Regions from separate parts of the Homo sapiens genome. Here region 1 is linked to region 2. Evidence: fine-mapped expression QTL. A gene starts in region 2. The other region holds a variant in brackets. All regions are shown on one strand. Distances are between the middles of the regions.

The links. PIP is the estimated chance that this variant, and not a neighbour inherited with it, causes the effect.
Region 1: its variant is the best candidate, but not a certain one, in a credible set for the expression of ANKIB1 in whole blood (INTERVAL, PIP 0.88).

The regions. Positions count from the first base shown.
Region 1 is chr7:92,394,691-92,403,399 of GRCh38, forward strand. It overlaps ANKIB1 (ankyrin repeat and IBR domain containing 1), which reads left to right. Exons shown (of 20, transcript NM_019004.2): 18 at 1,675-1,786; 19 at 3,033-3,169; 20 at 3,522-6,693. The coding sequence ends at 4,259. Among named protein-coding and RNA genes, the nearest start is that of GATAD1, 48 kb to the right of the region's middle. The variant G/A (reference allele first, on the strand shown) is at 5,152.
Region 2 is chr7:92,241,976-92,250,669 of GRCh38, forward strand. It overlaps ANKIB1 (ankyrin repeat and IBR domain containing 1), which reads left to right and starts at 3,999. Exons shown (of 20, transcript NM_019004.2): 1 at 3,999-4,544. KRIT1 (KRIT1 ankyrin repeat containing) reads right to left here and starts at 3,939. Exons shown (of 19, transcript NM_194454.3): 1 at 3,815-3,939; 2 at 2,927-3,196; 3 at 2,027-2,174; 4 at 59-162. The coding sequence starts at 160. RefSeq lists an enhancer at 3,820-4,114 and a silencer at 4,045-4,434.

The DNA of each region.
Region 1 (8,709 bases), 150 kb after region 2:
AGCCTTGACGACACTTAAGTCATCAGTTTGAGGTCATGGGCCTCTAGGAGAAGAGGAAATGATGTCCCACCTCAGCAAGGCATTTTAAAGAACCAGTATAAACCCTCAGGGCACTTGGAGTATCTTTCATTTATTAGTTTCTAACCTAACAGGATGCCTCCCACTTCTTAAGAGTCCAACTGCTTATATAAATAAAGGAGTTTAAATAAATGTCACCAGAGTGGTATGATGTGAAAGTTTTATTTGTGATCCAAAATTTGTCTTCACCTACTTCTAGTACTTTCACAATATAAGCATATTGAATATTCTAGGGTAACCAGGATAATCATAAAGTTGAATATCTTAGTGTTTATCATGGAAAGACACCATAATGATTCTCTAAATTAGCCTTTTTATGTTGGTATCATGTACCCTGGCCTCCTCTCTTCTCTTCCCTTCTCTTTTATTCTCTTCTCTTCTGTCACATTTATACCCAGGTAATAGCGATGGTCCCAGGTTGTACCCTCTGGTGATAACAAACTAACTTTAAACATTGTCACAAATGTGGAATAGGCTGAGGACATCTGCCTAAGTCTGTGTTCATCCCATATGCTAAATAGAAAACATTTCCCCTGCTTGTGTTGTAAATAGCACCACATATTGGCTTATATAGAAAAGAAGCTAAATAATCATCTTATTTTAAAGCTAACCTAACATTTGTCTTTTAATCTAGTCATTTGATTTGTGAATATGATATGTAGTAGTCCCAAAGAATAGAAAATCCAACAATCTGGCAAGTACTTAACAGTGTGTGTTATTTTTTACTGTTGTTCCTTTTTTTCTTTTTCTGTTACATATATCCCAGTCACTTTTTTTTTTTTTTTTTTTTTTGAGATGGAGTCTTGCTGTTGTTGCCCAGGCTGCAGTGGCACAATCTCGGATCACTGCAACCTCCACCTCCTGGGTTCAAGTGATTCTCCTGCCTCAGCCTCTCGAGTAGCTGGGATTACAGGTGCCACCACCACGCCCGGCTAATTTTTTGTATTTTTAGTAGAGATGGGGTTTCACCATGTTGGCCAGGCTGGTCTCAAATTCCTGACCTCAGGTGATCTGCCTGCTTCGGCCTCCCAAAGTACTGGGATTACAGGCGTGAGCCACAGCACCCACCCCTGGTCACGTTTTTAAAGCCACTTTCATATCCAGTTTCAATGGCTCACACCTGTAATCCCAGCTACTTAGGAGGCCGAGCAGTAGGGATTGCTTGAGGCCAGAAGTTCAAGACCAGCCTAAGCAACATAGCAAGACTCTGACTCTAAAAATAAAAAAATAAAAAATAAAAAACCTCCCTTCAAGGAAAGCCTTACTTAAATGAGTAATATGGTTGTAGTATTAATTAGATAACAAGATCCTTGAAATCATCAGGCATATAAAATAGGGCTGTTCTAATGTAGCACTGGGGCTTGCAAGTATTCCTAATTTATCTAGGCAATTGTAATGACTGTTGAAAACTTTCTTTTTCCATTTTACCTTTTGTGTTTCCTTGGCATGGCAAAACCTGATGTTTCAGCCAAGTGATTTTATAAGATGTGTATAAAATCACAAACTTTTTCCCCTGGAAAAAAGTGTGTACTTTGTTTTATTTGCATTTTAAAAATTGCATGCTCTCTTGTATTTTATAACCTTTGGTTTATGCAGGAATATGCTGAATTTCAGTATCGGAGGAGGCACAGACAACGTCGTCGAGGAGATGTTCACAGTCTACTCAGTAATCCTCCAGACCCTGATGAGCCAAGTGAAAGCACTTTAGGTAAGTCCTTGCATTGAGTATGGTTTAATCTCATAGCTCCCCTGAATTTATCCTTCAAACTGGCTGATGTAAATTTTTGTGAACGAGTTTGTCATTTAGATATACAATAAATATGCAGATGTTTCTGTTGTGACAGGACACAGAAAATCAGAGGAGTTAGGAGCATGGTCTGTGGAGTTAGGCAAACTTGGATTCATGACCCCATCTCTGCTGCATATTAGCTGTGTAACCTAGTCAGGTCACAACCTCTCTAAGGTTGTTTCCATATTCTAAAGACACAATAATAATAGTGCCACCTTATAGGCTCATTGTGAGTATTAAATTAGATAATGCATCTAAAACACTTAAGCACCTAGTGAAGCACTCAGTTAATTGTAGTATTGATTGATACTGTTTTGTGTTCATGGAATATTTGTCTCCTAGCCTTAGTTGTCCTGTAGACATTATTTAAAAGAGAGAGAATTTCTGGCATTAGAGATAAATTATTTTAATTATTCAACTTTTAAATGTTAAATTATTAAGTGAAAATCTTCTGACTATAATGTCAGGATCAATGGGACTAAAGATTTGCTCTTCAGACTATTGTAATTCCCAAATTATTTAATTTTAAGAAATCTAAAAATGAAAAACGTTTATTAGTTATTGCTTAACAAAAAAAGAGAAATGGATAGTAGCACTTGCATTTATGAATAGAACTATATAGACTGCAAGCAAAAGTGTAAAAAAGTCAGCCAGGCACGGTGGCTCATGCCTGTCATCCCAGCACTTTGGGAGGCCAAGGTGTGCGGATCACAATGTCAGGAGATGGAGACCATCCTGACCAACATGGTGAAACCCTATCTCTACTGAAAATGCAAAAATTAGCCAGGCATGGTGGTGCACATCTGTAGTCCCAACCACTCGAGAGGCTGAGGCAGGAGAATCGCTTGAACCCAGGAGGCAGAGGTTGCAGTGAGCCAAGATTGCGCCACTGCACTCCAGCTAGGTCGACAAAGCAAGACTCCATCTCAAAAAAAAAAAAAAGTAAAAAGTTACGGATTTGAAGTGATAGTATCATATATATATTATTCTTCATGGTAAGACAAATATGGATGAGAAATCCCAGAAAGATTAAGTGAACATGTCAACACAGGTTTTCCCCAGCACTGAAAGAGAAATTGCCCATCTAAACAACCAGATGTATGAAAAAAATAAATAAGTCTTATTTGTCACTAAATTGTCTTTGGTACCAATTGCTTTGAAACAGATATTCCAGAAGGCGGCAGCAGCAGCCGCAGGCCTGGCACATCCGTGGTAAGTTCTGCATCTATGAGTGTGCTGCACAGCTCTTCCCTGCGTGACTACACCCCTGCCAGTCGCTCTGAAAACCAGGACTCTCTTCAGGTAGCCTTTCTGAACAGCCTCATTGCCTGTGCTTTTACTCTTTCTCTGCTGAGTGTGGTTTCCTGTTGTTACTTTCATCGCTTTCCTATTTCTTCCTTCCATTCTAAAATCTTTGTTTTAAAGATGTGCTGCAGGAAAAGATATTCCTATATTTTAGATTTATTTTAAGGTATGTTTTTTTTTTCCTTTAGCATGGGCATGGAGAAAAATACAAGATTTTAGTAGATAAAATAATTTTTCTGTATAAATAAAATTAATAATCTGTTGGTAAAGGAAGAATGGTAAACCTGATTGAGTTAAATCAGTTTTTTTCAGTCAAATTTTAAAGTGGTTTTGCTTTCTGTTGCTTCAGGCTCTGAGTTCCTTGGATGAAGACGATCCCAATATACTTCTTGCAATACAGTTATCACTGCAAGAGTCTGGGCTGGCCCTCGATGAAGAAACTAGAGACTTCCTCAGTAATGAAGCATCCTTAGGTGCGATAGGCACTTCTTTACCTTCCAGGCTGGACTCTGTCCCCAGAAATACAGATAGCCCTCGGGCTGCATTGAGCAGCTCTGAGCTTTTGGAACTTGGTGACAGCCTCATGAGACTAGGAGCAGAGAATGACCCATTTTCAACTGACACCCTGAGCTCACACCCTCTCAGTGAGGCAAGAAGTGATTTCTGTCCCTCATCTAGTGATCCTGACTCAGCTGGCCAGGACCCCAACATCAATGACAATCTTCTCGGCAACATCATGGCTTGGTTTCATGACATGAACCCTCAGAGTATTGCCCTGATTCCTCCAGCAACTACAGAAATCAGTGCAGATTCCCAGCTCCCCTGTATCAAAGATGGGTCAGAAGGTGTGAAGGATGTGGAACTGGTGCTGCCAGAAGATTCAATGTTTGAAGATGCCAGTGTCAGTGAAGGTAGAGGAACCCAGATAGAAGAAAATCCTTTGGAAGAAAATATTCTGGCGGGGGAAGCAGCATCTCAAGCTGGTGACAGTGGTAACGAGGCAGCCAACAGAGGAGATGGTTCAGATGTTTCAAGTCAAACACCTCAAACCTCAAGTGACTGGCTTGAACAAGTACATTTAGTGTGAACTGCACACATCTGGGCTCTAAATGAATTACAGGTACAGATGGTATGCTAGGTGGAGTATGCTTGATAGAGACTTTGATTCACTTAATTCCAACTCAGTGATAAACCACTGACATTAGGGTTGAATACAGAGAAGTTCCCTTGAATGGTAGCTTCATTTTTTATTTTAACCTTACAGGGAATTTCCTTTGTACTTAATTGAATAGCTTTTCCCCTTTTTGCTGACAAAAAGAAGAGCAAGAGAAAGAGAAACAAAAATGAAATAAATAAGTTGTATTCCACACTCTAAGAAAATGCAGTCCTCTATTTAGCCTAGGCTTGACAATACTTAAATTGAACATTTAAACTAAAGGCTTACTCCCTAATCTTTGGGTGGCTTTCCTTTAAAAAAAAAAAAAAAGTTTTCTTCATTCTAGAAATTTATTTTGGATAAATCCGATAACATATATGTCCTCAATCTCTTTGTGCTCTTCCATAACTTACTTCCTTTTTGTCTGAGCAATGTGAATTGAAGTCTCTTTAGTACCACATCTACCATAGTGTAATTAGTTTTAATTTTCACATGAATCAAAGGTTTCCTTTCATGTCTATTTACAGTCCAATTGTGCCAAACTCTTACTTGTGTGCTGACTAACAAGGCATTTAGGTGTGCAGCATCCTAGAGTGCTCCAGGGCAGTGTCAGCGTTCTCGGGAGTAAAAGGTGCCACTTGGTAGCAATGATATTCCAGAATTAAATGGGTTTTTGTTGCCATGGAGACTGCATTTATATAAATGTAGCCTGTAGCTTAAGTTAACTAAACCTAATGCTGCTGTTAAAAACAGTTTATTTTAATATTAAAATACAGTTGATTAGCAACAGCGGTGCTGTATTTTAAGAGACACTTTATTGGAA[G/A]TGCAATCATAGTTATTTGTTTTCACAATTTTACAGTGCATTCTAATTACTGATGGGTGCAATTACTTTTAATCGTGTTTTATAAAATAGAAAAAAAGTGGAGTTTTCATGAGTTATAGTAAATCCCACGATTATTAAGAAATTCAGTAAAACATCCTGCGCAACATGTTACCGTGCCTTTGCCTAACCTAAATGGATAGTTGCCAGTTAAATAAGTGAGTAATTCAAATTTCAATGTCTCTTCTGAAGTAACTATGCTATGAATTGCAAAGACCTCCATAAAACCACCCATGGCCTTGCTTTTACACTAACTATAACAACTAAATGTTCAATCAGTTTGTTTGCCTAACTAGCAAATGCTGACATGTGTTTGTTCTACTGCGCAATACTCATTTGCTGTGTGATTACTGTTTAGTGTTGAAAAAAATCAACTTCCTAGTTATCAGTGTCTTACTGTGAAGAAAATACTGGTCTTAGTTGTAATTAGGATACAATGGTACAGTGTGTAATTAAAACTAGAGTAAACTGTTGGAATGGCTGTTTTACTTAAATATTATCAAAACTAGCATAACATAAGCAAAATAGATAAGTACAACACTCCATTTAGTGTTTTGCCAGATTGTTACCAGAAGTCTACAGATACCAAACTTTCAGTTCTGAGTTTGTACAGGCAAGTCCTGGGCTGGGTAAAAAGTTATATTAATATTGTTATCCACAAGAGATGTGATTATGGGTTTTGATTACTTTTTTTTTTTCCAAACCCTGCTTTTGAAATATCCTTGTACTTAAAATTCATATTGCTAAGACACTGTATTAGAATATTTAATATTCCCCAGATCCTCTTAGGATAAACTGTGGGAATCCTCCTATGCCATGGATATCAAAGGTCCACATTAGTTTTTATTTCTCCAGTGATCAGAAACATTGATATCAATCCCTATTAAATTAGTGGGGGGAATATTAACTTTATCTACAGTGTATTACTGTATATTAAACTGAAATAGTCCATTAAAGGATTTTTTTATAAATTTATTTTGGATTAAAAATATCAACACCAATAAGTTTTTAGACCAAGTTGTAATTTTTCCAATATAGAGTCTTTGCATCACACTGAGGCATCTTGCACAGCTGCAGTTAAGGTGAGAAAGAATGCTCTGTGTGAAGACAGTGTACACAATGGGTTCCGGTTTCCTTGCACCTTGTGCAGTATCCTTTATTTCTGTGCTGTTCTCTCCTGAGCATGAAAAATGATCATTATCCAATTTGTATTTCCTTGGTACATATTTTAAAAACAACACAGTCATTGACTTTACAATTCAGTAATGAAGTTTGGCAAAGCCTATTTTGTAAACAAGTTAATTTTATAATGTAAAAAAAAAAAGTTAATCTAACCTTGACTTGTTATTTGCACTTTCATAGTCTATACTTGATACATTCCCACTTTATATACAGTAGGATTCTACAAACGTGTAGATGTTTGGCCAAATGAATGCTGTTAATAATATGTAAAATTCTTTGATTAAACATTTATTACTTAAACTACTTCCATTTTGTCTCATTACATTGTAGACTTTGTTTTAACCAAGTCAGAAAGCTGATTTTCTTCAAATTAAATCCCTCCAATGTGATGGGATCAATTTGGTTCTTACATGTAATTGATTAGTGCCTAATATTTTTACACTAGCCACTTACTGAGCATTTTATATCCCAGTTATAAATATGAAAACACTGCATGACAATGTGTTAAAACATTATGACATCAGTGCTCATTTTATTGACATCACTGTAGCTTTCAGGAGAAAAATGTTATTTTTTCTTGAACTCTAATAGAAATACATAGAAAAATAACTTTAAGATATGTTTTGTGAAATTGCTTAGGAAAGAAAAAAATTTTATGCCATGTGAATAAAAATGCCTGCTTCTCTTTCACTTTATTATTGTGTCCCTTATGAGTTACCAAAATAACCCATGACATTTGACCATGCCCCAGCTGGTGCTTCATGGGGTCTGCTGGTGATAATCATTTAAAGTGGCGTCATCTTATTTATGCCTTTCATTATGTGGATCTGAAGCTTAACTACCAATGTTCATAGGCTGAATTATTCCTTAATTGTTGTTCATTACAGCCACTGATCTCATTTTTTATCTCCTTTGAGTCCTCAAATATTTATCATTTACGTGTTATGAATTAAAATCTGGAATTTATTAAAGTTTGATCATAATTTAAAAGCAGTGATAGTATATCTCTGAAGAGTAAAACCTTGGAATCTAAATATTAAGTGATAATACAAACTTTGGGGGTGTTTTAAGGCTGAAATAACTCCAAAGGAAAAAATTTTTCATGCAGTCAGCTCTTGGACTGAGTAGTAGGTTTTTTTTTGTTTGTTTTCTTTGTTTTCTCTTCTGAGAAAAACAAAGGATCTTACTCTGTCGCCCAGGCTGGAGTGCAGTGATGTGATCATAGCTCACTGCAGCCTCAACCTCCCGGGCTCAGGTGATTTTCCTACCTCAGCCTCCCAAGTAGCTGGGACTACAGGCACATGCCACCATGCTCGCTAATTTTTGTATTTTTTGTAGAGACGGGGTTTCACCATGTTGCCCAGGCTAGTCTTGAACTCCTGGGCTTAAGAAATTCGCCCATCTGGGCCTCCCAAAGTGCTGGGATTACAGGTGAGAGCCACTGTGCCTGGCCCAGAAGTTGTTTCATCTCAGCATTGTGCTACAGGCATAATTACTGGGTCTTCTCCTTGGCAACATTATATTGTCTTGTCAGTTGTTACAGCCTTCTCACCGGAATGAAAGATTTCTTTCTAGAAAGATAGAAGTGGCTTCTTCTAGACTGTATTATGTGACAGTACTTTAGGAACTGGCAGTAGACTTATTTCTTAAAGATGAATCAGAAAAGTTTCCTTTAGACCTCAGTTCCACTTAGGACTCACAGGTAGCTGACAGACTTAGTGGTGGCCAAACTTCTGAAGGAATTATTCTTCTTCACTCTTTGAAACTGCAATTTGACAATATTCTTAATCAAGCTGTCTTCATGTCTTAGCCAGCTGTCCCATTAAGTATTTATTGCATAAGTGCCTAGCCTGTGTGAGCCATCAGTACATAACAGGTTGAGACAAACACATGAGAGTGAACAAAGCCAAAGTACAAAAAGGATAATTGTTGGAGGATTCAGTCAGGCCTCTTATCTTACTAGGTGTGCCAAGACTGCAAGGCCCTGTTGGCAATTTTGCCTGAGCCATCTCAGGATTTATGTAACTAGTAACTTGAGATCAAGGAGCAGGCTTAACTGCTTAAGAAGTGGATTCCTCACACCCAGTGTTCAGCTGAACTACAACATGAACCCCACCGTGTGCTTGCTGTCCATCCAGGTCCTTTGCATTGCCCCCTTGAAACTGGAGACAAGGGGAACTGATGCAAATATGCTGAGGTTCATTCTGAGTGCTGTGCCATGAGTGATAAAGTCCTTTGCCTCTGACTCAAGAGTCTCATGTCTTCTGTCAGCATTCTTGAGATTGTAACAGGCTAACTTACTCGTTTGTCAGTAGGGTA
Region 2 (8,694 bases):
AATGATAATACAGAATGACATTCAATGGTAGAAATAAATTATTATTAAATGTTCTTACTTCATATGACTTAGCTCTGTATTCCCGAGAATTGAGACTGGCAGTATTCTTTGGACGAATAACAGCAACATATGCATCTTCTATGTTTTCTGGATTTCCCATTGCTTTACAAAACAAATAAAAAAATCCTTTGAAAGATTAAATGACACATTTGATGGCAAGATAAAAAAAAGTAATGCATCTTAAATTGAAAACTTTTATTTCCACATAATCATGTCGAAAAAATTAAAAAAAAATAAAATGTTCTCTATCCTAGAATATACAGTGCCTAAAAGGCAAGCCAGGAATGACTTTGACTGCATCTTTACTGTTCAACTACTCAAAACCTTAGCTGATAATTTAAGATTTCCTTTGTATTTCTTTTTTCATTTTAAAATAGGGTTATACATTTTCATAGGTGTTAACTGCATAGTAAGAATCTGCCTTTGGGGCCAAAAAAAAGTGATGATGATTATAAAATAACTTGTAAATAATGACTTGAAATAGTGATTCAGAATAATATACACTTTTTCCATAAATTACAAAAGTGAATGTTAGTTATACTGTTAACAGTTTGGAAGCTGGAAATGGTAGATGTTTTATATCCATTGACATTTACTCCAGAACTTTCAGCAAGGATAACTTTGATATCAGACATTTGGATGAGCTAAAGCGTAGTATGTAATTTTCTTTGGAGTTGCTTATCACAGAACCAAAACTATTTGGTCAGTTGATAAAAGCTTTCTGAAGGTGATTTAAGAATCTTTTCCATTTCCCTTATCAATTTCCTTGATAATCCAAATTTTTGTTTTGTTTTGTTTTAGACAGAGTCTCGCTCTGTCACTTAGGCTAGAGTGCAGTGACAATCTCGCCTCAATGCAACCCTCGCCTCCCGGGTTCAGGCGATTCTCCCTCCTGCCTCAGCCTCCTGAGTAGCCAGAATTAACAGGCGTGTGCCACCATGCTCGGCTAATTTTTGTGTCTTTTAGTAGAGATGGAGTTTTACCATGTTGGCCAGGCTGGTCTCAAACTCCTGACCTCAAGTGATCCACCTGCCTCGGCCTCCCAAAGTGCTCGGATTACAGGCGTGAGCCACCACACCTGTCAATAATCCAAATTTTTTATTCCAAATATATTCACTGTGTGTGTGTGTGCGTGTGTGTTATGCATATACTTTGTCCCACTAAATCTTAAGTCTCCATTGCGCAATTTCCAACAAGTGACTGAATTTCAACCACAATCTTAGTTGTATAATAGTTTTCTTCATTGAATAAATTTCTTTCATGGCTACACTAAAGTGCATCTTTCTGTACTGATTATTTTTTATCTTTTTTTGAAAAAGCTTCTCCCCATTTATTTGTCAGTAAATTTCTAAAAGAACATTAAAGAGTTTCTTTCCCAGCTATGTTGAGATGAACTTTCTTCAGTTTTTTAAAAACCATTAGGCATTAAAATTACCTGTTCATATTTAATGAGTTCCCTACTGCTGCAACTCTCAAGATAGACCATTTTCAAGAAAGGGTTTTGAATGTTATTTGAGAGGCGATAGAGTAATTTATCCTGTTTCTTCCACTGCAACTGAAAATGTCACTCTGTAACTTTTAATTCACTTCCCTAAATAATAATTAAAAAGTGCCTTATGATTGTAAAATTACCCTAAGAAGAAATTCTTTTAAAATACAGTAGCTTTTGGCATTTTACATAAACTTTAGCCTAAGATTAAAACAACCATTAAAATTATTGTACAAAAATTTTAAATAAAATAATTTAAATACTTTTCAAATTTATTTTAAATTCTAAAACTTTCCATTGATTTAGATCCAAAAAAACCCTACAGATATTTCACTAGAAAAAAATACAGTGACACATTAGGATAGAGACATTTCATTGTGTGAAAGGTTTTGAGGACGTTATCATTCTTTATCATTATATACTTCATGAAATTTTTTTCAGTTCAATTTTTTGTATAAAATCATTCTTAAAACCCACCTCATGCAACAGACCTTCCTACATCATGTGAAAAGGATGAGGCCTTTTTCTTCTCAGAATTTCTATTTAGCAATTACTTTTCACCACAGATTAACAATGACTTCAAGATAATAAACGTTTACAAATTATGAGACAGACGCATTGAAGACTGCAAGCCCCAAAAAGAAAGACATTGTATTGTGAATACACTGTATGATATATGGGCACAATTACAGAAACCATTTTATCTATTAAGGACCTAAAAGAAAAATCAAGTAACTCTTACTTTTCTAAAGACAATTTAAAGCAAATCAATTCCTGTCTTGGTCAACTCATGTTAAGAAAACATTTACTAGCAAAGTACTTTGTCAATACTCATCACTTCTCTAGAATATTTAATTAATACTGCACAGAAGCCTGAACTTTTAAAAGGTAAACAAATGTGATTTTAAAAAGACATAACTATGACAGTAACAGTATTTTGTTTTCTTAAACCAAATACTTTTTTACCATATCCCCAAAATATTCTTAAAATTCATTTTCAAGAACTATTCGTACTTGACTACTTAAAATCTACATTCTTCCAGTGACATGAAAGAAGGAAACAAAGGCTTAACAGGAAAATAACAAAAGTAACTAACATAGGAAGGTAAAACTGCTAAGGGAGAAACACAGACAAACTGATAGAAAATGAGTAGCTTGAACTAAAATACAAGAAAGGTATAACTAGAGTTTGCAATATGTTTAGACTGAGTCTGAGATGAGGGTTCAAGTGAATAAGTACAGGAAACGTGGCATTTTGTTATATGGCTCACTCCATTCTGGAAAATGTTAGGCACAAATGATAATATGCTCCCTAAGTAATAAGATCTTATAAATAAAGCAGTGGAAGTGGTCCTTAATTAGGGGGGTGGCACCTACCTGGGATCACTGGAAAATATGGAGGGCATTTCTGGTTGTCACTATGACTGATGAGGGGAGATGTACAACTGCCATTTAGTGTCCATGGAACAGGTTTGCTAACATCCTCTTAGTATGCTAGACAGCGTTTGCAAACAGAAACTGTAAAGGCACATATGCACTCCAGAAGGGTAAGAAAATAATGAGGCTGAGATCCTGAGTTGGACCACCGAGATGAAAGACTTCTGGTGAGGCTAAAAACATGTAGAAAAAGCGATGAAAGCCAAAAACCTTAAAAGGTGGAGAAAAGTGTAGAGGCGAGAAGTGAGTTACAGGGGGAGAAGTGAGTTAGAATGACAAGCTGTGAATCCCTTTCCCTGCAATGACAAAAATACGTAATCACTCTGCCTGGGAGGTTTTTTCCTGCGCCACCACCCGTCAACGTCCACTACTGGGGAAAAACGTAAGCCTCTTTGCTCAAAGAGTTTCCACCCAAAAAGTGGCTATGGTTTCTCTGTAACTACATGTGAAAAATAAACTCCTTGCCTGGGGCAACTAGATGTGGAGATGGTTCAGTCTCCCACCTCCGTTTTCCCTCGCTGGAGTCGAACTTGCTCCTCCTGTTTCCCGAAGGACACCGAGAGGTCCCACCCGTACGGGCTGCCGCGAGTGCCTCTCTGGCCGCTACATTCAACTAAATGGGTGGGACAGTCACCTGGCGAGGGGGGGCAGGGACCGTCACCGCTTTCTCATTCCTCCTTCCCTCCTCCCAGGCACAGCAGCCCGGCCCAGCTTCCTGTGGCAGAAAAACCCTCAGTCGCCAAAAGAAAGCCGTCTTGAGGGTTCCCCCGCGCTCCCACCCGCGCCCCAAAAGCTCAGGTCTCTGGAGTCGGAGACCCTCCTGCCCACCTGCTCTTTACTGTCCTTCCCTCTCCTCGCACCTCAGCACCATTCACCCCTCACCCTCTCCCGAAACTACGGGGTCCCAGGTCTTCAAAGGCCTTAGCTTTCCACCCCGCCGTTACCGTGGCTATGAAATCGCTTCCGGGTTCACACCCTTTGCAGCCTCGCGGTTGGCGGTGAAAGAGCTTCCGGGTCGGCGGCCGGGCTGCTGCCGTTCCTGCTCCTTTTCACTGGACCTGCAGTCTCTCAGGGGCTGGTGGCAGGCGACTAGGAGACTAGGGTGGTGGCGGTGGGGGTGCCAGCGGCTGAGCCGGAGCCGGAGCCGGAGGCGGGGGAGGGGAAGAGGGCGGCCGGGGCTGCGAGCGCGCAAGGCTGGAACATGAGCCGGGCTTGACCGCGAGGCGGAGGCAAGAGCCACCGCCCCCTCTTCCCCTCCCCCGAGTGAGGCGGCGCAGCGGCCGGAGAGGGATGGGGGGCGCCCACCCAGTCTGAGCCTCGCCGCGGGCGCCTTCGGCTCACGCAGCGCTTCCCGCGGGCCGCCAGTGCGCACCCTCGGCCACATCAGCCTCCGCCTGGCGGGTGCACCCGGGCCGGCGAGGAAGGGGCAACCGTCCGGGTGGGTGGGGCGGGCTGGGTACCTGAGGTCACCAGCTCGGCTGTAGAGGCAGGGGCGGCGGAGGCGGAACTGCGGAGTTGCTGGGTCCACCGACCCTTACCCTCAGCGAGAGAAGTAACCGTAAGTCTCAGCTTCGCGGTACAGATGTGTTTGAGGCTGCCTCTACCCATTTGTGGCTCCGAGTTCAGAGCTACCTACTTCACACCCTCCCGGATCTACTAGGAGTGTGTCTGTCGCCTGTTTTGGAGCATTGTTGTTCTGTCTGTCCCCATCCCTGAACAGGCAGCATTCTCTGCCCTACAGGGCTTTTCTCCCAGCGAATTTGCAAGCCTCCGGGTCTCCGTGACGCGTCCCATCCTCCCCATCTGGATGCATCTCCTTGTCCCTCTGTCCTCAAAGGATCTGTGTCCTTCCTCGCAGCCTCCCCCCCACCCCCATCCTTTGAGACGTGGAAAGCCACGGGTTCTGCCGACCTCGGGGGCTAGAGAGAGTCTTGAGAAGCGGATGGGTAAAAGTGCTCTGCAGGGCTGTGATGGGTGGGGATAGGTGCAGATGGCTCCAGTGAACCTTTATTTTTGCAGCTTCTGCCACCAAAACAAAAGAATGGAGCGCTCCCCTGTATTCTTATTCTTCTCCGTATGTATGAGCTGTTTTTCTGTACGTAGCTGTTTGAGTCGCAGGAAATTGAAACTAGAGCTGTAATAAAGCATCTCCTGAGGAGATTTTGAGAATTAGTCTCCCAAGCTCTATTCACACGGAATGGCATATCGAACAATCTTGTATTGGAATGACCATTTCAGAAGAGCTTTACTGGTAGATCTGACAGATAAATGTAAAGATAAGAGTCTGCTGTTTCAAATAGTGTATTTTAGATACCTTTAAATTTTAGTGTTCTAATTTTCATCTAGTTCTTAATTTGTGAAGTATGTGGGTATGTGTAAGGTGTAAAAATCTGTGTATTGGAAGGTTTTGCTTTGTTACAAGCTTTTGCTTTGTTGCTTTTGAGACAGACGTTTAAAGATCATATTAGATTGTATTTGATAATTATTTTCAATCATTAATTCCAGAGAAATCTTTTTTTGTATCAGCCACTCACAGATGTTACACACCTTGGTGCCTATGACCCTCCTGCTGCTTAAACTGTGAATGTCTTCAAAGTATATTTTCAGATTTTTGAACTAGGCGTTTTTTCTCATTAGAATTTGATTTGCTTTTCAAACTGCTCCTGCAGAACTTTCCAGAAATTAGATTTAAAAATAATTTTAATGCTGTCAGTGATTGGACAATAGCTCTTATATGACTTTATGCATTTGCTACTTTTCAGAGCACCATAGGAAGCAAACGATAATTTAAGAATAATTTTACTGTGTACTGCAGGTTGTCATTCTGCAAACTACTGTGTAGTGTAGACTGGTAGCTTTGGTGTTTTGTGTTGCTGAAAAACATTGTCATTTCATTAAGAAAGATGGATGTGTTTAATGACTTTTCCCCCCAACCTCCTTTCAGCAGTTGATTTTGGGCTATTATCTGATTTGTAACTTCTCACTGTTCACAGATTTTAATTTGAAGTAGGCTCAGGAGATGTAGCTCCAACTCTGTCTCTGGAAATGTACTTAGCACAGAAGCCAAGCACTGTGCAGAGTTGAGTGTATTATTAAGGGTGTGGCTTTTGCTTTCTGTAAAATTGTTCAGTTTCTGAATAAGAGTAGGGTGCTATAGTGAGGTGATGGGCGCTATCTTGGAGAAGTCTTAGAAAAAATGTTGTTGATTCTCTTTTCCTTGGGGTAGGATGGGGAAGATAGAACTATATTTTCCTATTTCACTGTTCCCTTGACCACTACACCGAGAATTTTGAGTTTTCAATATGTAAGGAGTCTGAAACTGTGCCAACTGTGCTGTAAACAAGGGCTCTAACAGGTAGGTGACTCCTGAAACATGGGAGGGAAGTTTTGTTAGCCACTCTTTTGTACTCCTGTGGCACTGCCCACTTCTCAAAGAGTGGGTTTTCTTTCCTCTTTCTTTTCTGGGGTATGCACTCAAACTTGTGAAAGTGAAATATGTGTATTTACAACTTGCTTGTAGATAAAAGTGCGAGCTCATTTTCATATATAAGTAGATGGAAGAACTATGAATTAAGTTAATCTGAATGTCCTTGAAATGAAGTTGGAAAAGATTCCTCAGTGCTTTGGGTAATTTTTCCCCCATTGAGGATGCATATGACATTTATTTAGATTAAGTTTTAAAATATTTCCTTCAAATATTTGACACATTTGCCAAAAAGGATTTGGGAGTGGACTAAGTCATTATTAAAGAGACCAGTCTGTGGGAGTTTTTATACATTGATCTAAAAATGTTTAGGTTTTTAATTTACTTTTCAAAGTGACTTCCTTAGGGGGAATGGTAATTTTTGGATTCTCAGTTTATTTTTCAGATAACCTCAGACTGCCTCTTTCTTTTCCAGATACTTTTTTTCTTTTTTCTTTTCTTTCTTTTTTTTTTTTTTTTTGAGATGGAGTCTCATTCTCTTGCCAAGGCTGGAGTGCAGTGGTGTGATCTTAGCTCAGTACAACCTCCGCCTCCTGGGGTCAAACGATTCTCCTGCGTCAGCCTCCCAAGTAGCTGGGACTACAGGTGCCCGCCACCACACCCGGCTAATTTTTGTATTTTTAGTAGAGACGAGGTTTTGCCACGTTGGCCAGGCTGGTCTCAAACTCCTGAACTCAGGTGATCCGCCTGCCTTGGCCTCCCAAAATGTTGGGATTATGGGTGTCAGCCACTGCGCCTGGCCTTCCAGATACTTTCATGTCCACTTCATTTCAGTAAACCTTTGTTGAGCATCTACTGTGTGTGCCAAGCACTTTTATTAGGTTCTGGAACTACCAGGGTAAATTAGTCAAGGTTCCTTTCCTCATTGAGGTTACCAGTCTAGATATTTGACTGTGATTTCTATTCACCTGCCTTTATTGGCTTCTCTTACAGGTTTTTAAGCCACTTGACCCTGTTGCAAGGTTGTTTCATATCCTGTGTATAAGAATAAGCGGCCGGGTGCTGTGGCTCACGCCTGTAATCCCAGCACTTTGGGAGGCCGAGGTGGACAGATCATGAGGTCAAGAGATCAAGACCAGCCTGGCCAACATGGTGAAACTCTGTCTCTACTAAAGATACAAAAAACTAGCTGGGTGTGGTGGCACGCCCCTGTAATCCCAGCTACTTGGGAGGTGGAGGCAGGAGAATCACTTTAACCTGGGAGGTGGAGGTTGCAGTGAGCTGAGATCGCACCATTGCACTCCAGCCTGGGTGACAGGGTGAGACTCTGTCTCAAAAAAAAAAAAGAATAAGCACAATAGATGCCATTTATTGAGTGCCTAATTTGTGCCAGTCACCATGCTAAGTGCTTTACATACGTTATCTCATTTAATCCTTAGAACAGTCCCAAAATATATTTTATCTCCATTTAAAGATCTCCCCCCCCACACGCGAATAAACTAAACTAAATTATTTTAATAATAAAAAGCCATACAGAATCTTGTGTATAGTATTACTGGATTTTTTTTTCTTGTAATATTCTCGAAAAGATTTGACTTACAGTCCTTAAAGGGGAGAAGCTGTCGTACAGTCATTAACAGTTTTTAATTCTCTAATATTGCTTTGAATAGAAAAATCCTAATTTCATAAGGTACTAGTATATCTTGTGTTCTAAAGCAGATAATTTGGCTGGGTGCAGTGGCTCACACCTGTAATCCCAGAACTTTGGGAGGCTGAGGCAGGCGGATCACCTGAGGTCAGGAGTTCGAGACCAGCCTGACCAACATAGAGAAACCCCATCTCTACTAAAAATGCAAAATTAGCCGAGCGTGGTGGCACATGCCTGTAATCCCAGCTACTCGGGAGGCTGAGGCAGGAGAATCGCCTGAACCCAGGAGGCAGAGGTTGCAGTGAGCCGAGATCACGCCATTGCACTCTAGCCTGGGCAACAAGAGCAAAACTCCGCCTAAAAATAAATAAATCAATAAAGCAGATAATTATATACTATCAAAAATAATTTTCAGTCATTGTTTAAACTTTTGAAAAGACATAATTCTAAAGTTCATTATGGTTAACTGTAACAGATCTTCAGGCATGTTTACCTTTTTTTCCCTCTAGTTCTACAACGGGACCACAAGCTTTTAAAATGTGCTAAAAATGTGTGTATTCTCCAGGAAGGGTAGAGTATTGAGCCATGTGAAATCTATTCAGCTTTTAAAATTTTTGAGTTTGATTTTGGCAACTA